Linked DNA regions of Homo sapiens. The protein of the gene in region 1 interacts with the protein of each later gene in a pairwise test. Each region holds a gene or a part of one and is shown on either strand. Other genes may lie near its edges. The genes, in order: ZRSR2, TNFAIP8L1, REP15 and SRRM4.

The links.
Region 2: the proteins of ZRSR2 (region 1) and TNFAIP8L1 interact in binary tests that used the Homo sapiens proteins (3 or more experiments, as listed by UniProt).
Region 3: the proteins of ZRSR2 (region 1) and REP15 interact in binary tests that used the Homo sapiens proteins (3 or more experiments, as listed by UniProt).
Region 4: the proteins of ZRSR2 (region 1) and SRRM4 interact in binary tests that used the Homo sapiens proteins (3 or more experiments, as listed by UniProt).

What each region holds. Positions count from the first base shown.
Region 1 is NC_000023.11:15,800,477-15,807,505, forward strand, and holds part of ZRSR2 (U2 small nuclear ribonucleoprotein auxiliary factor 35 kDa subunit-related protein 2), read left to right. Parts: intron 1-3,211; coding exon 3,212-3,320; intron 3,321-3,634; coding exon 3,635-3,721; intron 3,722-7,029. UniProt on the Homo sapiens protein: Pre-mRNA-binding protein required for splicing of both U2- and U12-type introns. Selectively interacts with the 3'-splice site of U2- and U12-type pre-mRNAs and promotes different steps in U2 and U12 intron splicing.
Region 2 is NC_000019.10:4,649,491-4,656,072, reverse strand, and holds the end of TNFAIP8L1 (tumor necrosis factor alpha-induced protein 8-like protein 1), read right to left. Parts: intron 4,207-6,582; 5' UTR 4,204-4,206; coding exon 3,643-4,203; 3' UTR 505-3,642; downstream 1-504. UniProt on the Homo sapiens protein: Acts as a negative regulator of mTOR activity.
Region 3 is NC_000012.12:27,691,496-27,698,125, reverse strand, and holds REP15 (rab15 effector protein), read right to left. Parts: upstream 1,680-6,630; 5' UTR 1,564-1,679; coding exon 853-1,563; 3' UTR 530-852; downstream 1-529. Other genes in the region: PPFIBP1 (liprin-beta-1), read right to left, coding at 5,244-5,330, 5,470-5,535, 6,198-6,377.
Region 4 is NC_000012.12:119,152,533-119,159,561, reverse strand, and holds part of SRRM4 (serine/arginine repetitive matrix protein 4), read right to left. Parts: intron 6,024-7,029; coding exon 5,913-6,023; intron 5,320-5,912; coding exon 5,179-5,319; intron 3,068-5,178; coding exon 2,764-3,067; 3' UTR 1-2,763. UniProt on the Homo sapiens protein: Splicing factor specifically required for neural cell differentiation.

The DNA.
Region 1 (7,029 bases):
GCGCCTGACCTGTAATTGTTTTTGAAAACAGAAAAAAAACAAAAAAAATTAACAAATGTAAAAAGGGAAAAGACTTTAATAATTGCAACACACCCAAAGATAGCCACTGTTAAGAAAGAGAAAAAGAAAGTGTAAATGTACTTTACGTGTGTCTTTCTATAATGGCATGATATTTATACATATTTTTCTATAAATTGCTTTCTTGCTAAATATATAGTGCATTTATTTCAGTACTGATGCAGGGATCTAATTCAGCCATTTCAGTGGCAATACAGTACCCACTGTACAGATGTAGCATAATTTATTTGCTATTCATAGTTTATTCATTTATAATTTATAGTTCTCTACTGATGGACTTTCAGGTTATATTGGTTTTTCACTCATATGTAAAAAGTTGCAGTAAGCATCCATGCTTATATATCCTTGGTAATTGTCCAGTTATTTCCTTAAGAACATGACTAAAAATGAGATTGTTGGAATCAAATCATAAGTCCATGTAAAATGTAGATGGCCAGGTAGAAAGGGCTTCCTGGTTTGCAGTTTGCAGCCCTTCTGGCAGTGAATGTAGGGGCCCATCTCCCCATACCTTCACTCATACTAGGCATTATCAGTTTATAAAACTATAATGAAACTGTTTCAAATGCACATTTCTGAATTAGGTAGAGTATCTTTTTATATGTTTTATTACCTATTTGTAGATTGCTCAAGTCTCACACCTTTCTCTTTTGGGATACATGTTTTTTTAAAATTTGTTTTTGTTTTGTTTTGTTTGAGACGGACTCTCGTTCTGTCACCAGGCTGGAGTGCAGTGGTGTGATCTCCGCTCACCGCAACCTCCACCTCCCAGGTTCACACGATTCTCCTGCCTCAGCCTCCCGAGTAGCCGGGATTACAGGCACGCACCGCCACACCCAGTTAATTTTTTTTTGTACTTTTAGTAGAGATGGGGTTTCACCATGTTGGCCAGGATGGTCTCGATCTCTTGACCTCATGATCTGCCCGCCTCGGCCTCACAAAGTGCTGAGATTACAGGTGTGAGCCACCGCGCTCAGCCGAAATTTCTTAATGTCTCTAAGCTTCTATTTCCTTGTCTGTAATATGGAGATAAAGTCAATCACAGTATCCACCTCACAGAATTGTGAAGATTAAAGGAGGTGATGGATGTATAGTGTTTAACACAGTGTCAGCAGATGAGAGGTGCTGTGATAGCTCTAGTTCTTATTATTATAGATTTCTGTTATGATGAAGACAATAGATACGGTATGAAATAAGAGAGTAATTTTTTTCCTGTTTATTTGAAATGCTTCTTTTAAATCACATACATGTATCTTTGTGCTCCTTAGATCTTTATTTCTTTATGAGTTGCATACTATTATTGAAAAGCAAGAAAATTATGTAAAAATACTGTATGACTTTATGTCCTATTTCAAAGCAGATGTATATTCAAGTTATTAAATTTTAAAATTTTTAACATTTTACTTTCTTGTGGTCTTAATTTATATATCATTTGGTTCATTTATATACAATTATATGTTTTTCAAAAGATTTGTAAATCAGAGTTGTGCCCACTGAAACATCTATATGGTACCCTCACACATGGCATAGGAACACTGATAGATGCAATGTGCCAGCCTCTGCCATGGCTAAAAGATGTGTTCCTGGAATCTGTATTTGGAAATGTAATATATTTTATTTAAAATTGTGGTTAGGTCCCCAGACTAGACATAAAACTTTACTGAACTCCTAATACTGCTGAAGTAATATAGAACAGTTTCTCATATTTAATTTCCCTTTTATAAATTCAGTGGAAGAATGAATTTGAGGTTCTACACACCTAATTGGCAGGTAGACTTTGGCAATCTAACCCCCTCTTTATATTAGAAATTTGTGATATTGGATGTCTGAGACACTTGCCACTTTAAGGTAATACCACTCATTATAATTGGTCATATAAAAAATAGACTAGACACTCACTAATTTATTTTTATTTTTTCATTTTTTGAGACGAAGTCTCGCTCTGTCACCCAGGCTGGAGTGCAGTGGCATGATCTCGGCTCATTGCAAACTCCGCCTCCCAGATTCAAGCGATTCTCCTGCCTCAGCCTCCCAAGTAGCTGGGATTATAGGCGGCTGCCACCACGCCTGGCTAATTTTTGTATTTTTAGTAGAGATGGGGTTCACCATGTTGGCCAGCCTGGTCTCAAATTCCTGACCTCAGGTGATCCGCCCGCCTCAGCCTCCCAAAGTGCTGGATTACAGGTGCGAGCCATTGCGCCCGGCCCTCACTAATTTATTTTTATAACTCCATTTCTTAAAACCTGTAGCTTTATTTTAAAAACATGATTACAATGTACTTTTATTTTCCTTCTTTTGGCTGTTTAGGTGTTTGGAGGCAAACCACAGGAGTCTCTTAACTGTGTGTAGTAGTAGTCCAAAGGTTTATGGCAAAGGATACTGGGTTTTCAGCGTGCTGCCATCATGGAATTGCTACTTTTAAGAATAGGGGCTGGGTGCAGTGGCTCACACATGTAATCCCAGCACTTTGGGAGGCCGAGGCAGGTGGATCACTTGAGGTCAGGAGTTCGAGACCAGCCTGGCCAACATGATGAAACGCTGTCTGTACTAAAAATACAAAAATTAGCCTTGCGTGGTGGTGGGCACCTGTAATCCCAGCTACTCGGGAGGCTGAGGCAGGAGAATCACTTGAACCCGGGAGGCAGAGGTTGCAGTGAGCCAAGATCATGCCACTGCACTCCAGCCTGGGCAACAGAGTAATACTCTGTCTCAAAATAAATAAATAAATAAAAATAAATGCATAGAATAGGAAGGGAAATGCTTTCTGAATATGAAAAGGTAGATGCTGCTTTGAAACTTGCTACCCATTTTATTGTCACCTAAACATCACTGTGATCAGTCTAGAGGGAAAGTCATAGTGTCCTTTTTTCTGTAAAGTATGTCACAGCCATATATACCTATGAAATGTAAGAGAGATTTTAAGTTATTACCCATTAGGAAGATAGTTGCTGACACGTGGTGCTTTTCCAAAAGCTCTGCTCTTCTCGTTCTCTTACACCCACTTGACTGCTTTAATAGAAAATAGCTTTCGTGATATTTGAATCAGTCCCAAAATGTGTCATTTTGCTCTCGTGTGTGTGTGTATTTGTGGATTAATGCCCATTTCTTTTATCTGATTACATCATTATACTGATAGGCAAAGATTACATGAGGAGTGGTTGCTAAGAGAGCAGAAGGCACAAGAAGAATTCAGAATAAAGAAGGAAAAGGAAGAGGCGGCTAAAAAACGGCAAGAAGAACAAGAGGTATGGTAGGAATCACGTAACTAGTGAACAAACTGATTACTTCACCATAATAACTCTCATGAAGAGTTGCCTATCTTGGGAGGTTGGAGTGAGCTGAGATCACGCCATTGCACTCCAGCCTGGGCAGCAAGAGCGGAACTCCATCTCAAAAAGAAAAAAAAAAAAGAGTTGCCTATCTTGAACTTAAAAAAAAAAAACAAAAAACTGATCTTATTCAGTTTGCCAGTGTTTTAAGTTTTTCATCTATGTGCGCTGTATGTGAAATGTTTTTAAAAAGTGACTGAAACAAAGTTACTTTTTCTTCCCCTTTAAAGAGAAAGTTAAAGGAACAATGGGAAGAACAGCAGAGGAAAGAGAGAGAAGAGGAGGAGCAGAAACGACAGGAGAAGAAAGAAAAAGAGGTGATTCCTGTCATGGGATGTGCTGTGTGATGAGTTTGAAGAATAATCAGTAGGCATGTCAGAGTTTGGGTTTTTTTTTTCTCTTTTTCTTGTCATTTCATTGTTTGTTTGGAAAGAATCATATTTCAGTTTAGACATAACACCAGAGTTCCCTTCTGATGCTCTTCTTCGGGTCCGTGCAGTGGCAGATTCCTTAAAGTTTTCTTCAGCTTTACCCTATTTACCCTTTATACTGGGCATTGGCAAATGTTGTAAAGGGCCAGATGGTAAATATTTTAGGCTTTATGGTTTGGTCTCTGTGGCAAACATCCAACTCTGCCAGTGTACCCTGAAAGCAGCCATCGATAATATGTAGATGAATGGGTATGGCTGTGTTCCAGGAAAGCTTTATTTACAAAACAGGCAGCTAGCCCTTGCTTTATAGCAAGTTATGTTCTTCTGAGGTTCTGCTGTATATGAGTTGACTTCTTTAGAGAATAATACTTTGTTTTGTTTCCACATTTATTTAGGTCATAAGAGAACTGCTTATGACATGTCAGCAAGAATTAGAGGATTTAAAGAAATCAGGAACTCAAATATTGAGGAACTAGGAAACAGTTTTTGTTATTTGTATTAAATCTTGACTTCCTCTTCCACTTAGGCTATGAAGATAATTGTAGCTAACACACAGTTGCTTATTTAAAAAAAAAAAAAAATCTGTGAGGCATATGTGTGTATGTATCTTCTCTATCTTCCAGGATTCTTTTTTAAGGATTGATTTGGTATGTTTTGCTGCTATTCCTTGACAGTATATTTATTTCAGAGGTATCACAGCTCATCTTCCCTTGACTGATTCATCAGGATTTGTCTTTTTTGTAATACAGCTAAATTTAAATAGCATAAAATTGGATAATCACCTTATAATTGGGAAAAATGCATGTGTCTTCATTGTAGTCAATATGGGGCAGAAGCAGCCTCCACGATCTTTGTTTTTTGTATCTTAGGCCATCAGTTAATTTCAGTGCAGATTTTAAACACCTTTATTTGAGCACTTCTTTCCAGATGAGGCAAGTTCATGCTAGGTTTTTAGGGGGCAGAAAAATTGTTTGGAACTTGTCATTTTTTTATAGAGAGGAATTAATTCCCATTTTAACAGTAGAGTGTTCCTCAACTGAGGTCTTTCAGGAATTCAGTAACAGCTAAGGCCTCTTTTGAATGCTTTTGTTTCAGAGGAAATCTGTGAGACTTCAAGGAGAAATGAGGGAAATGAAATAGATTCTAAGCTTATAAAAAAGAATCAGCAGTATGTGTTCCTGCTGTATGCTAGACACTTCGCTAGCGGACAGAGACAGAGCAGTGAAAGACACAGTCTTTGCTCTCATTGAGCTAGTTTTTTATATGGGAGTGTGAGATGATAAGCAAAACAGATCATTCAAAATGTGATCATATTAAGTGCTATAAAGAAATAAAGCAGGCCAGGCGTGGTGGCTCACGCCTGTAATCCCAGCACTTTGGGAGGCTGAGGCGAGAGGATCACGAGGTCAGGAGTTCGAGGCCAGCCTGGTCAACATGGTGAAACCCCGTCTGTACTAAAAATACAAAAAATTAGCCAGGCGTGGTGATGGGCGCCTGTAGTCCCAGCTACTCAGGAGTCTGAGGCAGAAGAATCACTTGAACCGGGAGGCAGAGGTTTCAGTGAGCCAAGCTTGAGCCACTGCACTCCAACCTGGGCAATAGAACTAGACTTCGTCTCAAAAAAAAAAAAAAAAAAAGAAAGAAATAAAGCAGAGTGATGTGATAGAGTAATGAGAATAGAGTTGTGCTTCTATAGATTGCCTGCTCAAGGAAATTTCTGAGGAGGTGATGTTTGAGCTGACACCTGAGTGGAGAGATCTCAGCAAGAAGAAGCCTGAAGCTTGAAGGCTGAAAAAAGGCCAGGGAACCTGAAATCTAGAGTCCAAAGGAGAGAAGGGCAGTGGAGGAGGTTGCTGAGGGAGAGGGGGCAGTGGAGGAGGTTGCTGAGGGAGAGGGGGCAGTGGAGGAGGTTGCTGAGGGAGAGGGGGCAGTGGAGGAGGTTGCTGAGGGAGAAGGGGCAGTGGAGGGTAAGCAGAGTCAGATCATGTAGGGCTTCCTGGATTTGAAGGAGGAGTTTGGATTTTATGTTTCCTATAATGGGAAGCCATTGAAGGGGTTTAAGCAGGGAATGACTCTGTCTCATTTATATCTGTACCTTTTAACAGATCATTCATTTAAAAAAAAAATTTTTTTGAGATGGAGTCTCATGCTGTCGCCCAGGCTGGAGTGCAGTGGCGTGATCTCTGCTTACTGCAACCTCTGCCTCCTGGGTTCAAGCAATTCATATGCCTCAGCCCCCCGAGTAGCTGGGATTACAGGTGCCTGCTACCACGCCCAGCTAATTTTTGTATTTTTAGTAGAGACAGGGTTTCACCATGTTGGCCAGGCTGGTCTCGAGCTCCTGACCTCCAGGGATCCACCCGCCTCGGCCTCCCAAAGTGCTCGTGTGAACCACTGCACCAGACTTTTTTAACAGATCATTTTTACTTTACTGAAACCTCTGCCTCCCGGGTTCAAGCGATTCTTCTGCCTCAGCCTCCTGAGTAGCTGGGACTACAGGCGCCCATCACCACACCCGGCTAATTTTTTGTGTTTTTAGTACAGACAGGGTTTCACCATGTTGACCAGAGGACAAGGAGAGAGAGAGGAATTCAAGTCATATTTTTAGGTTTTTAGTTTGAATAGACAGATAGACTGGCAACACTATTCACTGAGGGAGCATTCAGGTGGATGTGGGCCAGGGAGTGTAGAGGACAAGAGTTCTGTTTTGAGCACCACAAATAAGCAACTAGACATACGAGTCTTATGTAATGCTTTAAGGGGCTAGGGAAGATAAGACTGTCTGTTAAACATAGGTACAACTTGTTCAAATGCCAATTAGGTAGAAATTTACTGGCATATTGCAGAACCTCCTTTGCCTTATTAAAAAGTTAGAATTTTCTCCTAAATGCTAATTACCACTGGTCATGTCATATTTTAGCTTCTGCTAAATGTTTATGATTTCATCTAGCATTGTTTTTTGGGTTTTTTCGTTTGTTTGTTTGTTCGTTTTTTTTTAGACAGAGTCTTGCTCTGTCGCCTAGGCTGGAGTGCAGTGGCGTCATCTCGGCTCACTGCAACCTCTGCCTCCTGGGTTCAAGCGATTCTCCTGTCTCAGCCTCCCAAGTAGCTGGGATTACAGGCACGTGCCACCACACCTGGCTAATTTTTGTATTTTTAGTAGTGACGGGGTTTCACCGTCTTGGCCAGGCTGG
Region 2 (6,582 bases), on another chromosome or scaffold:
TCCTGGGTCCAAGCCATCCTTCCAGATAGCTGGGACCACATGTGCATGCCACCCTGACTGGCTATAATTTTTTATTTTTTTATTCTGTTTCTGAGACCAAGTCTCACTCTGTTGCCCAGGCTGGAATGCAGTGGCACGATCTCATCTCACTGCAACCTCCGCCTCCCAGGTTCAAGTGATTCTCCTGCCTCAGCCTCCCAAGTAGCTGGGATTACAGGCACCCGCCGCCATGCCCAGCTAATTTTTGTACTTTTTAGTACAGATGGGGTCTCACCATCTTGGCCAGGCTGGTCTTGAACTCCTGACCTCAGGTGATCTGCCTGCCTCAGCCTCCCAAAGTGCTGGGATGACAGGCGTGAGCCACTGCACTTGGCCTTATATATATATATTTTTAGAGATAGGGTCTCGCTATGTTGCCCAGGGTGGTCTTGAACTCCTTGGCTCAAGTGATCCTCCTGCCTCGGCCTCCCAAAGCACTAGGTTTAACTGACATGAGCCACTGCGCCCAGGCTGGTGTGTGCTTTTATTTAAATTGTTCCGCAGTCCTATTTGGTTTGTTTCCTTTAATTAAATCTCAAATTTACAAGAGTCCAGACTGTCTGGACAGCCCAACAGGGACACAGAGAGTTTTACACACTGATGTCTCAACAGCACAGGGTTCCATCGGGACTTCGTGAGAAAATCAGGATCCATGTACGTTCTTGAAGAGCTGTCTCTCGGCCTAAGATAAGTGGAGAAGGTTGCCTTGGAAGCGTGGGGTAGAGGTAGGAACAGCTGGCTCTCTGGCCAAGGCCTTTGGCTTTTTCGCGGAAGCAAAAACCGAACCACGGGAAGGCTGCTCCGAGTCTGGGGTCAGAATTTCCTATCAGTGAGTGCAGCAGGCCAGGGAGAGGCGAAAGGGAGTGGAGAGGACTGTGGTGAAAGGGAGAGGGGCGGCCCCTGCACAGCTTCACCAGGCGTCAGTGCAGGCTCAGACGGCCGGACTGGCGAGTTTTCAAGAGAAACTCCAAATCCAGACAGGTGTGTGTGATCTCTTGGTTTTAAATGCAGACAAATTCCAAATGTCTCAAATACTGAATGGAGCCAGCTAGACCTACCTTCTCACCAAGTAAGGCCCACAGGCCCCTGCCGCAACCTCTACCCTCCACAGACAAGGTTCTGCAAAACAGTCATGGGACCTTGTTTCACCTCCCCCACAGGCACCCAAAATAACCTTCCTGACCTGCAGCAGCATTTTGCAATCTTTGAGAACCCCTGCCCCCTGCTGACAAACAAAAATGGCAAATAGACTCCCCCACACCACGCCTCCACGCCCTGAGCTGAGAATCGCCCGCATCTCGTGGGTGGTACCAGAGCCAAGACGACAGCCAAGCTTTGCTTTCTCAGCTCTGTCTTATAAAAGCAACATGGTTGGCTGGTTGGTTGCTGATTCTCCAAATATGAAATCACGATATTACAATGTGCACACTTTGTGAGGCCGAGGTAGGTAGGTCGCTTGAGCCCAGGAGTTCGAGACCATCCTGGGCAACATGGTGAGACCTTCTGTCTACAAAAAATACAAAGATTAGCCGGGTGTGCTCGTGCACACCTGTAGTCCCAGCTACCCGGGGCTGAGGTGGGAGGATCACTTGAGCCTGGAAGGAAGGGGCTGCAATGAGCCGAGATTTCACCACTGCACTCCAGCCTGGGTGACACAGCGAGACTTTGTCTCAAAACAATAAATAAATAAAATGTGCACACATCTCAGGTGGGTCCCCCCTCACCCCTGGGAGGTGGGCACGCTCCGTCCCCTCCCATGTGGCAGTCCCTGGATTGGAGCAGTTTCCCCTCCCGACCCAGGGCAGAGGTCTCCAGCTTCACGGAGGCATCCTGGCTGAACGTGCCAGCATTCACTGGAGCCTTCTTGAGTGGGGGCTTCCAGTACCACATCCTGTGGACTGAGGGGCTTCACGCACATTTATTCTCATTCAGTTCTCTGGGCCGCAAGTCTGAGATGAAGGTGTGGCCAGGGCTAGGTCCCTCCAAGGCTGAAGGGGATCTGCCCTGGGCCTCTCCCAGCTCCTGGTGGTGGCCGGCATCATTGGCCTTCCTTGCATGCATGTCTGTGTCCAAATACTTTTTTTTTTCTTTCTAAGACAGAGTCCCACTCTCACCCAAGCTGGAGTGCAGTGGCATGATCATCGGTCACTGCAGCCTCTTAACTCCTGGGCTCAAGTGATCTTCCCTCGTCATCTCTCAAGTAGCTGGGATTATACGTGTGCACCACCACAGTCACTTTTTTTTTTTTTTTTTTTTTTTTTTTTGAGACGAGTCTCGCTCTGTCACCAGGCTGAAGTGCAGTGGTGCAATCTCGGCTCACTGCAACCTCCGCCTCCCTGCAACCTGCGCCTCCCAGGTTCAAGCGATTCTCCTGCCTCAGCCTCCCAAGTAGCTGGGACTACAGGCACGCAACACCATGCCCGGCTAATTTTTGTATTTTTAGTAGAGACGGGGTTTCACCATGTTGGCCAGGATGGTCTCGATCTCTTGACCTTGTGATCTGCCCGCCTCAGCCTCCCAAAGTGCTGGGATTACAGGTGTGAGCCACCACGCCCGGCCCACCACGATAATTTTTTTTTTGTAGAGACGAGGGTCTCACCATGTTGCCCAGACTGGTCTTGAACTTCTGAGTTCAAGCAATCTTCCTGCCTCGGCCTCCCAAAGTGCTGGAATTAGAGTAGTGAGCCACTGCACGTGGCCTCAATCCCCCACTCCCCCGCTTCTTTTTTTGAGACAGAGTCTTGCTCTGTCACCCAGGCTGGAGTGCAGTGGCACAATCTCGGCTCACTGCAACCTCCTCCTCCTGGTTCAAGTGATTATCCTGCCTCAGCCTCCCGAGTAGCTGGGACTACAGGCATGTGCCACCATGCCCAGCTAATTTTTTGTATTTTCAGTAGAGATGGGGTTTCACCGTGTTAGCCAGGATGGTCTCGATCTCCTGACCTCGTGATCCGCCCGCCTCAGCCTCTCAAAGTGCTGGGATTACAGGCGTGAGCCACCGCGCCCTGCCCCAGGCCCCCTTTTTTTAAGGACCCCAGTCCTTGAATTGGGGCCCACCCTACTCCAAGATGAGATCATCTGAACTAATTCCATCTGTAATGATCCTATTTCCAAATCAGATCATCTTCTGAGGTCCTGGGGGTTAGGACGTGAGTTTATGGAAGGGGGGGTGCCGCGACTTGCCCCCTAACACTTCCCTTCCCCCAGTTCACCGTGTGAACCCGTAGTCCTTGTGCGAGGGATGAAAATCCCAGGCGACATGATCCAAGTGGGAGGCAGCAGCTTTTGGCTTTTACATCAAGCGACCCAGGGGTCGGCGTGGCCCAGAAAGTACAAACGGGTGAAAGGTGGTCCCCAGAGTAGGGCCCCAAATTCCTCTCCCCATTGGGCGGGGGCCAGGAGGAGAGGTGACATTGGTGTTTGAAACAGCTGCTACAGATGCCTCAGCATCCTCTCAAAGGAGACAGGTCACCCATCTGTCTAGGGGAGTTTGGCCGGAGTCCGATTGGGAGAAAAGAGGTGGAAAAAAACCCACAAACCCCACCCGCGCCCAGCAGGAGAGCCCCAAAAGGCGCGAGGGGCGCGGTTGGGCGGCGCCGGGGTTCAGAGGCTGCCCTCGTCCAGCATCCGGCCCAGGCCCTCGCAGATCCTGCGCAGGTGGGAGCGGTAGGGCTCGGCGGGGCCGTAGAGCGCAGCCAGGAAGTCGCAGTCGGCTAGGTGGCCGAACACGTGGTTGATGCGGCCGTGGGACTTGGCGGTCAGGTGGGGACCCACGGCCTGGTGCAGCAGGTCGCGGCACTCGAGCAGCCCGGCGGCCAGCACGCGCCGGTCGAAGGTGAAGTCCACCTGGTGGAAGCTGACGGCCGTCATGGCCAGGCAGCGCGCCCGGTGGCGGAAGCGCCGCAGCAGCGCCAGCTCCTCACCGCCCAGCTGGTCCCCACGCAGCAGCAGTCCCAGCTTCAGGGCCACCTTGACCAGGTTCTTGAGCATCTTCTGGGCCTCCTTGCGGCTGCGCGTGAACTCCCTGGTGGCGCGGTACAGCTCATCCAGCACCTCACTGCTGGTGTCATCCACCAGCACGGCCACCACTGCCTTGGACGCCATCTTACTCAGGAGCTTCTTCTGCGCCTGCAGAGCCAGGCTCTTGGTGCTGAAGGTGTCCATGGCCTGCGGGGGACACAGACCAGCCCTCAGTTTTGCACGTTGGGGCACTCCTCACACAGAAGAGGTGACAACACCACAGACCCCAGAGGGCCTAACGGAATTTGTTTCTTTAAAAAGTGTCATGCCGGACGCAGTGGCTCACGCCTGTAATCCCAGCAATTTGGGATGCCTAGGCAGGCGGATCGCCTGAGATCGAGGTTAGGAGTGCGAGACCAGCCTGGCAAACATGGTGAAACCCATGTTTCTCTCTACTAAAAATACAAAAATTAGCCAGGCTTGGTGATGGGTGCCCGCAATCCCCGCTACTTGGGAGGCTGAGGCAGGAGAATCCCTTGAGCCCGGGAGGCGGAGGTTGCAGTGAGCTAAGACCATGCCACCGCACTGCAGCCTATAATTCAAGCCTGTGGTTCATGCCTGTGGTCCCAGTGCTCTGGGAGGCTGAGGCAGGAGAATTGCGAGGCCAGGAGTTTGAGACCAGCCTGGGCAACATAACAAGACCCTATCTCTAAAAAAAAAAAATCAAAAATTTTATTTTGTATTTATTATTATGATTATTATTATAAACAAACAGAGAAGGCCCTTCTGAACCCCACTATCTGTAGGGTCTGATGCCAGCCCTCAAACCCATCATATCCTTGCTATGAGCTGAGAAGGGGCTCAAGGTGATTGTTACAGGGGGTTCCGTTCCATCCCCTAGGTCCAGCTCAACACTCCCCACCCTCACCCCACAGCTCCATGAGGTGGGGTTCCAAGTGAGCCCCAGACCCGGGGCTGTTCAGGGTGGAGGAGCCCCATTACTATGGCAGTGCCTCCAGTCCCACTGCCCCCGCAGGGTTGGTTTATTTATTATTTATTTATTTTATTATTATTATTATTACTATTTTTTGAGATGGAATCTCCCTCTGTCGCCCAGGCTGGAGTGTGGTGGCACGATCTCGGCTCACTGCAAGCTCCGCCTCCTGGGCTCACGCCATTCTCCTGCCTCAGCCTCCGGAGTAGCTGGGACTACAGGCGCCCGCCACCACACCTGGCCCCCGACAGGGTTTATAACAGGCATGTCCAAGGCCTTCAGCCCCGAGTGAGCCAGGGGGTGATGGGTTCACAGGGGGCCATTTGTGGGGTTTCTGGGAAGGCATGGCTCCGATGATTCCTCCAACAGGGAAACATTGACTTGGACAGCCCCCGTCCAGGCTGGGACTGGGGAGGTGGCCAAGGTGAGAGCCTGGCCAGCTCTCGAGGCATAAGGGCCAGGCCTCTCACTGCAGAACCATCCCCCTGTCCCTGTCTGCTCCTTTTCTCTGTCCACCCTGCCCTGTAGCCTGCCCAGTTTCCCCAGCCCTGGAGCTTCCCCCTCCACCCACCTCCTTCCTGCAGCTCCGGAATTCTTCCTAAATCTCAGAGTAGGGCATAGCCCTTACCTGCTGAGAACAAGCTGACAGCTCCTCAAAGCTCCCAGGACCAAGCTCCACACCTCACTTGGAGCCCTGACTCTTCCCTGTGGACCTCAATACCCTAAGGCCCCATCTCCTCCCTGGTGAACTCCTATACACCCCCCAAAGCCTGGCCCCCAAGCCCCTGCCTCTTCCCTGGTAAACTATACATCCCCATCACTTTGGCCCCCAAGTCTCTGCCTCCTCTGAGCCGCAGGTTCCCCAGGCATCCCCATTGCTCCTCTGCTCCCCAGCTCTGCACCCCAACTGGTCTGCCTCACCCCAGGCCACAGGGGAGGTCATGGGCCCAATTCCTTATCCACGGTGTCCCTGCAGACTCCAGAAACATCTGCTGAATGAAGAGGGGAGTGTGGAAGAACTGGCGGAGGAGGGAGGGCCTGAGACCCGCCCCCGGTCTCTCTCACTGCCCCAGACCCTGCTCAGCCTCCACTCCCACCCCAGCGCCAGGCTGCCAGCCTTGGAATGCCATGTGGGCACCCACCTACCCCAGGAGCCCCCACAAAGCCGGTCTTTGTGTGAGTTCAGACTCCGGGAGAAGTTCCAAACCCTCGGCCGCCCTCTGAGGTCAGGGCAGGCACGGGAATTGCTGGATGGGCCGCCCCTGCCCTCCGACCTCGGTCACCAGACCCTGGCTCTGCACAGGCCTAGGCCAGAAGAGGGGTGCTGTTGACTCAGTGCCACGTGGCAGACCCTGAGTCAGCGATGTGTGCCCACTTTGTCATCGCCACCATGTACTAGGCAGGTTGCCTGTTTTGCAGAAGAGACCACAAAGGCTCAGAGAGGCTGAGCCACTTCCCCAAGACCACACAGCAATACAGTAACCACTGGCTCTCAACGCCCTTGAACCCCAACTCCCTGTGCCTTCCCCACCTAACGCCCTCAACTGGCCGTGAGTCTTAGAGGGCAACCCTGATATTTAGGGCCTGCT
Region 3 (6,630 bases), on another chromosome or scaffold:
TGTGAATACACCTTCCTTACTGCAAAGGCTAAACAAGTATTATTAAAAGGAATAGTTTTATAGGTCACTGTTTTTAAATCATAGGCAGAGCTAACACTAAAGTGAATCTCAAAGTAAATCCCATCAAAGTCCTCTCAGTGCAGAGACAGCAGCTAGGGAGAAGACAGAATAAGGTAAGTGTTAGAGGAAAAGAACGCTGTGAGTTTTGTGCAGGAGTCCTGAACCCAAACTATTTTTTTTTTTTTAAAGATGAGGATTCACTCTGTTGCCCAGGCTAGAGCACAGTGGTGCAATCACAGCTCACTGTAGCCTTAAACTCCTGGGCTCAAGCGATCCTCCCACCTCAGCCTACTGAGTAGCTGAGACCATAGGCATAAGCCACTGTGCCTGGCTTGAAACTGGCATTACAAATGTAATTAAACCTGCTCTGTAGCCTTACCCACTACTTTATCCTACCCATCTCCCACCAACAGATGCAAAAACACATTTTATACTTTTGAGTGCTAGACTTATTATTTCAAACAGACACTTTTTTTTTGCAAATCAAACTTTAAATGTGACTTTATTATCTCTCTTCCATTTTTATTATTGAATAAGTGAATGAAATATTAAACTAAATTATAACTTTTCCTGAACTGTTTTTAAATCATAGGCAGAGCCAGGGTTTTCTTTTTTTCTCTCTCTCTCTGTAATTGCGACATGAATGTACTTTGATCCCAGTAATCATTTTCAATCAATGGGAAAACAAATGAAAAAAAATCCCATGCTGGAATGATGCAAATAGGTGAGCTTGCTTATTAGAATCTTTTTTTCTTTTCCTCTTACAGGCCACTCACATAATACATATCCAAGTCAGAGAATGCTGATATAAACCTTGCCCACCTCTCTCAGCCCGTCTTTCTTACTCAGACAATTTCTGAGCAGCTCTTTGATGAACACACAATCTTCAGTTTCCAGGACAAACTGAGCCACAGCCTTCCCTCCTGGCAGATGGCTCCTCACCATCTGACTTTTGACACTGTCCAGGACAACTCCCCTGATGTCTTTAGGCTTTCCTGGCATACCAAAGATGATAAACAGACCCAGGCAATCCTCTCCTATTAAGTTACAGAATTCTTCCAGCTTATCAAATCTACTTTTCTTCCAGGAAGACTCCTCTACCCTTGATTCTGGATTGGAAAGGTCACAAGGCTTAGATTCCACAGGAGGAGGTGAAGACATCTGCAGAGTCTGTACTGCGAGCTGAAGCTTTATTTGCTTGTTGGATCCCCAAAAGGTCCAAATCCAGTCTGCACCAAACAGGAAGGCTTGGTGCTTGGTCATCTTGGTGGTGGTCAGCCACTCATCAACTCCCTTTTCTTGGCAGAAAGTGATGAAATGGATTAAGAAGATCTCATTCAGAGTATTTGCAGCTGGGCAGAGTTTACTTGGAGGATATTCAAATCCAAGGTACTCCTTCAGTTTCTGAGCTGCATGGACTATAGCTTCACTGACCACCTCACAGACGACGGGCACCTCTTTGCTGTCCTTCAGAGCCAACTGTTGCGATGCTTTCTGCCCCATTTTCTCTGCATCCAAATATCAAACATGTGAATCTGGTTCAGACGTACTTCTTTTTCAAAGTAAAAGTTCTGCAGGGAGGCCACATCTGTTAATGGTTCATGTTTTTCTAACTCTACAGCTTCCTCGGGTGTAGTTAAGCATATATACATACAGCTAAATAAACATGTTAGTTCTCTCTGTTTGTCAGTTGGGTGTGTTGTGTTCATACAGTTCCTGCTGGTTTATTAAGTTAAAGATACTAAATTTCACACAAAACATCTGTTCTATCTAGGTTATATTCACTCTACTTTTAATCTTTGGTAATCTCTTCCAACATGTTTCCTCTTTCCAAGTTTTAGTTGAAGTAAAAATAGCACGTTAGTTCTTTTTGTTTTTGTTTTTTGAGACAGGGTCTCACTCTGCTACCCAGGCTGGAGTGCAGTGGCGCAATCATGGCTCACTGCAGCTTCAACCTCCCTGGGCTCAGGTGATCTCACCTCAGCCTCTTGAGTAGCTGGGGCTACAAGTGTATACCACCACACCTGGCTAATTTTTGTGTATTTTTTGTAGAGGTGGGGTTTCACCATGTTGTCCTGGCTGGTCTCAATCTCCTAGGCTCAAGCAATCCTCCCGCCTCGGCCTCCCAAAGTGCTGGGATTATAGGCATGAGCCACTGCACCCAGCCCTATGTTAGTTTTTTAAATATCCATACACCTCTTTCTACAACTAACTTCTTCCAATCTCTAGGTGAGTCATTTCCATTTGCTTTTCCTATTTTCTTTTTTTGTTTGTTTTTGTTTCTTTTACCTTCTGCCATGATTCTTCATTCCCCAGCTCAGTTGCTTCTTTTCCTACAAAAGCTTCTCAAACAAAGGCCTCAAATTCCTATCTGTTGATACACATTATAAACTCCATTCGAACAAATTTATGGCAGTTTATAAAGAGATTGTGTTATTTTCTATGTCAGAAACAAAGCCTGTTACTATGAACAACGGAAAATGAAATAAGGGCAATAAAAATGAGGCAATTATCAATTGACTTTATTTCCTTTCATATGGTAACACCAGCAGTGTATGATATTTGTAAATAAAATACGTCATAAAAAAATTTAACCTTATTACCTATTATCAGTTAGGTTATACCATCCTGAATAAAAAATATTTGGGCCGGGCATGGTGGCTCACGCCTGTAATCCCAGCACTTTGGGAGACCGAGGGGGGCGATTCACGAGGTCAGGAGATTGAGACCTTCCTGGCTAACACGGTGAAACCCCGTCTCTACTAAAAATACAAAAACAAAATTAGCCAGGCGTGGTGGCAGGTACCTGTAGTCCCAGCTGCTTGGGAAGCTGAGGTGGGAGAATGGCGTGAACCCAGGAGGCGGAGCTTGCAGTGAGCTGAGATTGTGCCACTGCACTCCAGCCTGGGCAACAGAGCAAGACTCCGTCTCAAAAAAAAAAAAAATGGCGTCTGTAACAGTTTCCTGGTATTTTCAACCAGGTTCTAAGAACAAATTGATTTTTTGAAGTGGTGACATCTAGTCACATTAAAATAAAATCCAAATAAAGTAAGTTCAATACAGTTACCACATAATGAATGGTAGAGTTTAAAGAAAATTATTATTAGCATCAAATCAATTGTTATGAATAAATAGTAATTTGATATTACAAGTTCTTTAATGAATACCTTGGTAACTTGCTGACAACTTAAAAGATAATACCACTGATATTCAAATACAGTTTATAATCAAGTCCAGTGGCAGATACTGAACCGCCCACCTCCACCTCAATTTGTGAAAACCTGTCTTTTGTAGGGTTGGCTACCATGGGTAATTACGCAGCACTGAATAAAAAATAGAATATTTTTCTAATACTTCTACAAATATAATAAACACAGTAACAGTTTTTGCTGCAGCGATTTTCTTTACAAAGAATATTTGGGCCCAGTGCTACAGAAAAACATGAACTACATCTTATCGTCACAAAATAGCCATTATAAAATGAATTTTGCAGCCTCTGTTTTTTTGAACTTTGAAATAAAATGTTCAGACAAATATTCAACTTTTTAAAAACCTCCATTCATTGATAGCCTGAGAAATGTACAATGAACATGTTTAGGCAGACTGCTAGTATTTTGCTGTAATGACACAGTTAACAAAGAGAAAAGAAACAATACTGTAAAGGTTTCTGCTTTGCTTTTGGCTTCCTCAAAAACTATTTCTACAAATTTTGGGGAGAGGAGGTGATTCTGAATGTATTCAAGTTAGTGGTAGGCCAGGCAGAGTGGCTCACACCTGTAATTCCAGCACTTTGAAAGGCTGAGGTGGGAGGATCACTTGAGGACAGGAGTTTGAGACCAGGCTGGACAACATGGTGAGACCCTGTTTCTACAAAAAAACTTTTTGAAAAATCAGCCAGGTGTGAAGGGTGGGGTGGGGTGGGAGGCCACACACCTGTAATCCTAGCTATTAGGGAAGCTGAGGTGAGAGGATCACTGGAGCCTAGGAATTCAAGGCTGCAGTGAGCTATGATCACGCCACTGCACTCCAGCATGGGCAACAGAATGAGACTCTGTCACTAAAAAAAAACAATAATAATAAAAAAATAACAGGCTGGGCGTGGTGGCTCATGCCTATAATCCCAGTACTTTGGGAGGCTGAGGCGGGCAGATCACAAGGTCAGGAGTTCGAGTCCCAGCCTGGCCAATATGGTGAAACCCTGTCTCTACTAAAAATGCAAAAATTAGCCAGGCATGGTGGTGCATGCCTGGAGTCCCACCTACTTGGGGCTGAAGCAGAATGGCTTGACCCAGGAGGTGGAGGTTGCAGTGAGCCAAGATCATGCCATGGCACTCCAACCTGGGTGACAGAGCAAGACTCCATCTTAAAAAAAAGTATACTAATGTCCCTCAAGTTCTTCCATATGAGGTAAAGGGATCCAAGATTAAGGTTGAAATTCTTAAACTGTTCAACAATTTTGTGGTGTCATCAAAAAGGAATATTTCATATATATTAATTTAGCCTCAATGATCAACATTGTTAAAAGTCAGTATGGAGAAAGATCATTCTGACCTCTTCAGAAACCAGCTGGTATATGAACATTCTGATCACCAGATTGTTTTGAAAACGTGATCTTTTCACCATCGTCCTTAGGTCACAAAATAAAAGTTCTATTTTCTATGTACTGTATATATACATATATTTAGAAAAATATATAAAAATAAGACAATAAGAGGCAAGTGGAGGTGTGGCTGGCATTTAGTGGGCACACTGAATGCTTAAAGAAGTTCCACATATTGATTCTGAAATCATATAATGTCCTACTTAGGTGGCTACAGTGAACACTGATGTAACAAAATCATTCACATCCTGGTTACTGTTCCTCAAATCCTCCATACCGCGGATATGAATGGAAACACTCTGGTAAAATACTCATCTTAAATGCAACACTTTAAATATAATATATCACAGATTTTTACATTAAATAGAAGAAAAACAATTATACTCTCATTCACCAGTGTCTTATTTTTTGTGGCAACTTCAGAATCGGCACATTACTCCTGCTTTCTGTTTAAACTTCTCGACAGCAGAAGTTGGAACAACAAACAATAGACAATCCGCTGCCTGTTGTATATACTGTGAGTGTTTGGAAAAGCAAGTAGAAAAAAGACTAAGCACTCCTAATGTTCATCCAGGTGCTACGGTCAAACGTTTGAGTCTTCATCTGTAATGCTGGCACTGGGGGAACGGGCAGCAAAATCTTTAAACATGTCATCTTCTTTTAACATGTGCTGGAAAACAAGGAGACAGGGAGTCACACTGAGAGCCAAGAGCTCAGAGCTACACATTCTCCAAGAGACATGTGGTCCTTTGGGGTTGTTATAAAAGACATTTATAGAATAACATTTTCAATTCATTTCACAAACTCACCGTCAGATTGTTGATGCCTTCAGAGAATGCACCTATCTGTCTCACTGTCCCTTCTGAATCTTCCATCTGCAAATAACAAACCATAACATGACATAAGTGTTTTCACAATTTCAGGGAAAGTGCAGCAGGAGGAACAAAAGTCTAAGAAGAAATAATGCAAATAGCACTGAATGGGGTAAGAGCAACAGAACACTTCTGGTGATAATCTCCTTTCACCACTGCAACTGGAAGTGAAAAATTAGAAGAGACACTTTACTGACACAGCTAGTCTAATGCCTTTGCTAATAGTAGCAAAGCATTGTTGATTAGAGGGGAAATATGCGGTCCCACGACTTTAATCTGAAAAGGCTAGGTAGAATAACCTGTCCATTCCTAACATGTTTTAATACAGAGATGGCAAAATATTGGTAAATATGACAGGCTTTGGAGCCAAAGAGACAGGTTGGGGACCTTGGGCAAGTTACTTAGCTCTCTGTGCCTCAGTTTCCTTATCTCCAAAATGAGAATAACAATGCTCTCCATGTCTTAAGGTTACCATAAACATAGTATGCATTAAGTGCTTAGGATGGTACCTGGAAGATATAAGTGATCTCTAAGTGTTCACTATTATTATCTGTATTTTTAGTTATTTGAAGAAAATGTCCTTGATCAGACACAGTATACAAAGTTCCCATTTAGTGTCTGAATGATGGAAGAACTCGCAAAAAGTTATACAGTGTTGGATTTACCTGCTCTAACCGGTCCAAATCATCTTCCTCATACAGGCGCATATCCAAACCAGGTTTAAATCCTTTCTTAGATGCACTTCCTGATGCCTGTCCCAATTCCATTGGACAAACATATTCTTCACCATCTTCCTGTTTCTTCTTTCTCAAATTCCCAAAATTGCTAAAGGCAAGTTTCTTTGGCTTTAAAAGAAAAGCAAACAAAAACATCCAAAGGATTTGATAAAATTCATATAATCAAGGCCTGATAACATGTGATTTTTTTTTGCGTTGCCCCCTCCCTCCTATATGTATAATTTAATTATTTACCCCATGGTAGAGAGAAAAGTAGCTGGATGTTTAAATATGGATAAAAACAAAAGGGCATCCTAGGCATATAAATGATGCAATGATAAATGACCCTTGTTATGAATCTCAGGAAATTAACCTTATTCTT
Region 4 (7,029 bases), on another chromosome or scaffold:
CAACCCCAAGTGCAATTCCAGTACTAAACCAGACATCATTTTCATCCACCATGGCCCTCAAAATACAAGGCAACTACTTCAGCAAGTACTCAACTGAAGCCTCATCACTCTGTTAGGAGATAGCACATCTGTCTCCAATCTGGTGCCTCCCTAAGGGACATTCACAAGGGATTTCGACTTTGTGCAGCCTTGGCCCCATTTGCCAACTTTCGACTCCAACCCCCACCTAAGTTGCAACTCCACTGTGTCAATTCATCACTGTAGCTCATAAGCCTCTGGGCTGTTTACATCTTTTTGATACCCCTGTGAGGTTCCTGGGGGACAGGAGGCTGGGGTACAGGCCTGACCCTCCTGGACGCTGGGTTAAGTGATGAATTTTGGGACTGATGTGCCTCCTTCTGGGCCAACCCCAGGGTGTTCCAGGCTTAGAGCCTTCAGGGAGAAGGCCAATAGCCCACTCACCTTTGGCCTCTCAAATCCCATCCATAAAAAACAGCAGAAAAAAAAAGGAGATGCACAGAAATAATTTAGGAGATCCCCCCAACACACACACACACACACACACACACACACACACACACACACACACACACAAAACCTCTGTATAAATAAATAATTCAATACTGCTAATGGCGAGAAAGAGAGACAGTCATCAAATAAATAAATAGATAAATAAATAAAATAAATAAAAAGGTTTGCTAGGAGCCCCAGGCAAAATGGTCCCCTAGAGTTGTCTTGATGAAGGCAGTCCGAACGTGAGGTTCTGATGCCTCTCACAGCTGTCCTGCTAAGAAGGTTTTTGGTGGCTCTGGGAAGCCTTTGTCTCCATGGAGGGAGACTGAAGTCCAGTCTGGGTTCCTGGGCAGGGACGAGGGTTATTTACAGTGGCTGTACTTGCCCTCCCCGGGGCACCTGCCCCTGTCCCAGGCACCTGCCATCTGGCCTTCTGCAGTGACAGCACTGGCATCCATTAGTCTTTGTGGGCAGGGCTTAGGTCTGGGCCAGAGGCCCGGTATGGGGAGGCTGGGTCGTCCACTGCTGCCCGGGGCCCTCACTCCTGTCTTCTGATGGAGGAAGGGCTGTCGTGGTGGTGGTTGCATGGCAGTCTCTAGCCCCATGGGTTGATAGGATGGGAAAGATTGGGTAGGGAGACGTCACTGCTTCCAAGAAAAAGGACTATTTTCCAAATGTTTTCCCTGGGGTGGGAGGGATAAAGAATGTTTGGCCCTTGCTTCCCCATAACCCAAAATATCCAAAAGCTGGGACCGGTCCTCTCTCCCTCGCTCCCTCCGTGCCCTGTCCTGCTGCTGTTGCCACCACAAACTTGAAACTCACCCACAAGCCTCCGGAAAGCCAGTCAGCTGGTGAGGGGGATGCCCAAGAGTTTATTTTAAGGATCTTATTCCTCACCTCCCCGTTCTTAGCGCCTTCTGTGGATGAAGCAGCTGGTGGTATTTGTGGATCGGAGATCAGCTTACCCTCTCTGCCCAGCCCCAGCCAGGGGGGACTTGGGGTGAGGGCAAAAATAAAGGTGGGTCTTTCCCAAGCTGACAAGAAACCTCAGAAGCCAGCAGGAGCCCAAGACATGGCATATCCAAGCCCCTCTCCCCTGCACTCTGGATTCGGGTCTTTTCCCCCAAACCTGAGCTGCTGTGCCCCATCCTGGCAAAATTCCTGAGAGGCAAGGGGAGTGGCTTAAGCTGAAGGGTGGGTGGGTAGGTGCCAGGCTGCACTGGGTGGCATCCAGGGCGTGGCAGCCTGGGCAGAGGGGAGGGGGCTGGCAGGCGCCAACCGGAGGGTAAGGCCAGACTGGCTGGCGCTGGGGCCTGGCAACTGGCCATGGCACTGGGGAATGTTCAGCAGATGGTCCCGTGGAATTAAGTTGGTGCCAGCTAGTGGGGCTGAGGCATATTTGGGAAGTGGGGCTGGAGACCAACCTGTCCTGACTCTTCCACTATCTCCTTTCTCGTGAGGTTGCAGGGCCCCTGTGAATGGCCAAGAGGTGTTTTGTGTCAGCCATGCAGTGGCCTCTTCACAGCTGGGATCTGCTGGGCTCTGTCCCCTTACCATGCTGAGGTATTGGGAGCAGCAGCTGAACCCTTCCGTTTTTCTATCTATCATCTTAACCAACTCCTATCTCCTGACACCTCCCACCAAGTCAAACGTCCCCATCTGGTATTCAAGGATATCCCTTCTTCTAGGACCCAAATGTCTTCCAGCCTTTGCTTGGGCCTGTTTGAGGAAGTTAAAGGCCTGACCCCGTTATCTTGAACCTGAACTGCCATTGGTCTCCTCTTTCACCCCTCTCAGACATGGGGGTCCATCCACGTGCAGCCATGAAGTTGGACTAGTGGGGCATCCGGGGAGGTGGGGAGAATTACCACGGGCCTCCTGTGAGCAGTGGAGGAGAAGAACTGTCTCCACATTTTCCTGGCCAGGGCTCAATTTTTGAGTCACAGACCCATTGCTTCTCACAAAACCTTGAAGTTTTCTTTTCTTTCTTCTTTTTTTGTGCCACAAGATGATGGTTCTTTCCATATGCCCAGGCCTGAGCTGGGCCCCAGGATGATGCTGGTAGAGGCTCCTAGCAGGCTGATCTAGAGAGTGAAGCCCCCTTACCCTCTTCTCCTCTTCCCCTAGGCAAGCAGGAAGGACAAGGTATAGGAGCCCTCACTATTTGTCACCAAGAAGGCGGGGAGGGCAGGTGGTTGGGGGAGGCTGGCAGCGCGAAGGGGCCCCCACGGGCAGCTGGCTCAGGGGCACTTAGCGCCTCGTGCTGGAGTAGCTGTCTGCTGAGCTGTAGCTCCGGCTCTGGCTCCTGCTCCGGCTCCGGCTCCGGCTCCTGCTCCGGCTCCGGCTGCGGGAGCCCGGACTAGGGCTGCGGGAGCTAGAGCTGCTGCTCGTGCGGGTCCGGCTCCGTCTCCGGCTCCGGCTCCGACTCCGGCTCCGGGAGTAGCTGCGGCTGGCCGAGCGGCTACTGCTGCTGCTGTACCAGGAGGAGGTGCTGCTGAGGCTGCCGGATGAGGAGGGGCTGGGCCGATAGTAGGGGATGGGGCGTTTCCGGGCACTGCAGAGACCAGAGAGAGGAGGGATGAGGGCCGGCCCCTCCGTGCCTCCCCGCAGCGAGCCCCAGTCTTGTCCCAAGGGAAACCAATATCCTCCCTTTCCCCAGTCCCTTAGGAAAAAATACTCCCTTTCCACTTCTCTTGCAGTGCTGAGAACACATCAAAGTAAAAGTCTCAGCTTAGTGCTAGTATGTCTTGAAAAATGATTATCTCACTTTTTTCTTTCCCCCATGAAGCAAGCCTGGAGCTCAGAGCCTTCAGCTTGCAACAGAATCTACATCTAAACTTTAATCATAGTTTTGTTTTCCTATTTTTACTTTTACTAGAACCATCTATTTATGGCAAAAGAGGCTAATTTTCCATTTACTGTACTGTATCGTTTCCTTTAGAAATAAATGTATGAACCTTTGAAAAGAGTCATATCTATTTAAAGAAAATTAAGAATAGTACAGTTGATAAACAGACAAGTCATATGTGGTCAAGATACTGGTGAATGACTAAAGATTGGGAAACACTGAATGGGTTAATCAAGATGAATTATTTGAGATTGACTAAAGAAACTAGACAGCCATTTGGAAATGCCACTCTCTATCTTAGCTTTCCTCTAGGTTGACCCCAAAGATAATAATAATACCAACAACTTCTATTTTGTGCTTATTATCCTGGCCACTTAATAGCTGTGTGACACTGGATCAAGGGAGTGGGTTTAGAAATTATGCTAGGAATTATATTGTATTATATTATATTAATTACATTTTTTCAGACAGGGTCTCGCTCTGTCACCCAGGTTGGAATGCAGTGGTGCGATCTCGGCTCACTGCAACCTCCACCCCACTCCAGGCTCAAATGATCCTCCCACCTCAGCCTCCCAAGTAGATGGGACCACAGGTGCACACCACCATGCCTGGCTAGTGTTTTGTATTTTTGGTAGAGACAGGGTCTTGTCATATTGCCTAGGCAGGTCTCAAACTCCTGAGATCCAGCAATCCGCCTGCCTTGGCCTCCCAAGGGTTTAGGAATTCTTTACAAGCTGAGGCAGGGTGCCCTGTGGGATATTGGAGAAGGGGACCCATCACCCCAGCCTTGCTATCTGGGAAACACATTCTTTTTCCTCCTCCAGGTCATCTCCAGGGAGAATCCCTGATTCCTCAGTCCAGTGTCTGGACTGAGTGGCAGATGCCTGGAAGGCCAGCAGGAAGAGCCCAACCCAATCTTAGGGCAGCATTCAATCATTCTCCCAGCTTTCAAGGCCTGAGAAATTTGCTTGCACTCAGACTTCTCTGCTAGAGCTTTTCTCTTCTGAGGCCTTACCTGTTCCAGGAACGGTATCCACCTATTCTGACCATTCAATCAACAATGGCACATTGTGTACTCTGCATTCAAGTTTACAAAGCACGTTCACATCTTTTTGCCCCTTTTCATTTCATCCTCATGCTTCTGGGAGTTATTTCTTCCAATATCTCATGGGTGAGAAAACTGAGGCTCAGGAAGGTAAGAGCCTTTCCTAGGTCACCTGCAAAGTGGTACATTCAGGATTCCAATCCACATCCAGTGCTCTCCGGCTTATCCACCGTGGCTCCCTCTAGGTCCCTTTGGGAACTAAGCAATCCTGTTTGTCCTTTCCACACTTGGTTCAAGGTATAATTACATATAGGTTTATTTAAGCCTGACAGCTGAGTGTACAGGTCTGAGGGTAGAGGTCTGTCTCCGCTGCTCGGGATCCACCACCAGGCCAAGGTCCTGCTCCATTGCTTTGGCCTCCATTCCCTGGCCTGACGCCACTCTCTCCCCCAGCTCCGCCTCCCCGGCCCCAGCTCCACCTCCCCGGCCCCAGCTCCACCCTCAGGCTTTGGCCACTCCCCCATGCCACACCCGATTCTTCAGGCTGGCCCCGCCCCCTTCTTGCAGGCCCTGCTGGTTGAGCTGGGAGACTCAGTCCCAAGGCTTTGAACAGACACGTAATTTCAATGATGTTGGGGTTGGGGGGACCATAAGCTCGCACAATCCTAAATCCCAGCCCCAAGGAGGCCTAGGGAGAGCCTGAGGCTCGAATGAGTAAGAATGGGAGTGGGAACGAGGATGAAGGTGGGTCCCCCTTGCCCCCTGGCCTCACCTGGTTATCCTCCGGGCCTCCAGGTGGCTCGGGGAGTCTCTCCGGCGCTTTCTCATAGGCGAGTAGGACCGACGTCTCCGACGCGCTCGCTCGCGCTCCCGCTGCTGCGAGTCCTTCTCACTGTATTTGGGATCCCGCTCCCTGAAGGGGCGCGGGGGGTTACTGGGGAGCTGGGGCTGGGCTGGATTTTCTGCGTGAGCGCGTGGGAGAGGGACACTCCCTTTCTTTCCCACCCCACTGGGTCACGGGATGGGGTCTGCACGTTGCCGCAAGGGAGACCGGAGGGAGGATGACGGGGCTGCGGTAAGAGTCTGCGAGGGTTGTTAGTACCGTAGGGGTGGGGGCTGGGCTTGTGCAGGGGTGTCAGCATTTGCAGGTGGGCATCATAGCAGGGCAGGTGCTGCAGGGGTGAGGACGTGAATGTTACGCAGGCCCTGGTGCGTGGGTAAGAACTGGGGGCTCTGAATATGGGGACGGTCTGTAGAGGCTGAGGGCTGGGGATGTGAATTCTGGGGTATGTCTGCGGGACTGTTTGGGCTGGAGACATTAGGAAACAAGGGTATTTGATGCCTCGCTGCCACTCCTGATTGGACAAAGGGAACTGTAAGAATGCTGAGTCAGGGTCAGACCTAAGAGGAAGAAGGCCCGAGAACGGGGAGGCGGGGCCAGAGAGGAGGATCAGAGCAAAGGGGTGGGGCCTAGGACGGGCCTAGTTTGAGGGGCGGGGCCGGTACCTGCTGGGGCTGTAGCGGGAGTAGCTAGGGCTGCGGCGGGACCTAGAGCTTCTGCTGGGCGGGCTCCTCTTGCCAGACTTGGAGGAATAGCTGGGAGAGCGGGAGTAGGACCTGGGGGAGAGGTAACAGCCTCTGAGGAGCCTGCTGAGTGTCCGCCTGGGTTATCCAAGACGGCTTGAGCTTTATTCAGCGGGTCCCTGGGCAGTGACCTTTTTCTTTCTGGAAGCCAGGCAGAGGAACTGGGCCCCGATCAAAGAATGAAAGCCCCTCCCCACCGGTGGTTAATAATAATACCAACAACTTCTATTTTGTGCCTACTATCCTGGCCACTTACTAGCTGTGTGACCTTGGCAGATGATTTCGTTTCCCTGGGCCGTTTTCTTGTCTATAAAATGCAGGTAATAATAGTCCTTACCCTAGACAATTGTAAATTGAATGAGTGAATTCGGGTAAATCACATAGCATATTGGCACCTATGCTAAGTATCAATTAGACAGGACATAGGAAATGTTAGCTATGACTATGACATATTTTATTATGTGCCAGACATTGAACCAGTGCTTTGTGTGTATTATTTAATCCTCAACACATCTTAGGGTTAGGTACTATTATCAATTTCATTTTATAGATGGGGAAACAGAGGCACAGAGAGATGATGCACTTCGCTAAACACAGCTGGTAAGAGATGTGAACCCAGGACTGTTTGCCTCTAAGCCAAATTTAATTCACGTCTGTTTGGTTTCAAAGTGCTCTTGATTTTTGTAGACTATATTGTTGTGCATCTACATGACTAATCCTTATGCTCCTCCTAGTCTTCTTTGCTTTCTGTTAATGCCTCCCACTTTTAGAAAACAGGGGCAGGAATAGCTCTTCCCTTCTCAGTGCCCTCAGCAGTGTCCAGCTATGGTCACTGGAAAAATGTGCTTTTGCCAACTTATGCTTTGGCTATGCATTGAGAGATATAAGAAAGAGTCAAGATGAAACCTGTTTTTGGATACTTTGAAAGGATATTATCAGAATTTCCATTCACTGCACCATATAGAGTCCCTTTTCTGTGGAGCCATCTGAGTCATTTTTCATAGAATTAAAAACCTGAAATAGCTGCTCTTCTGAGCAA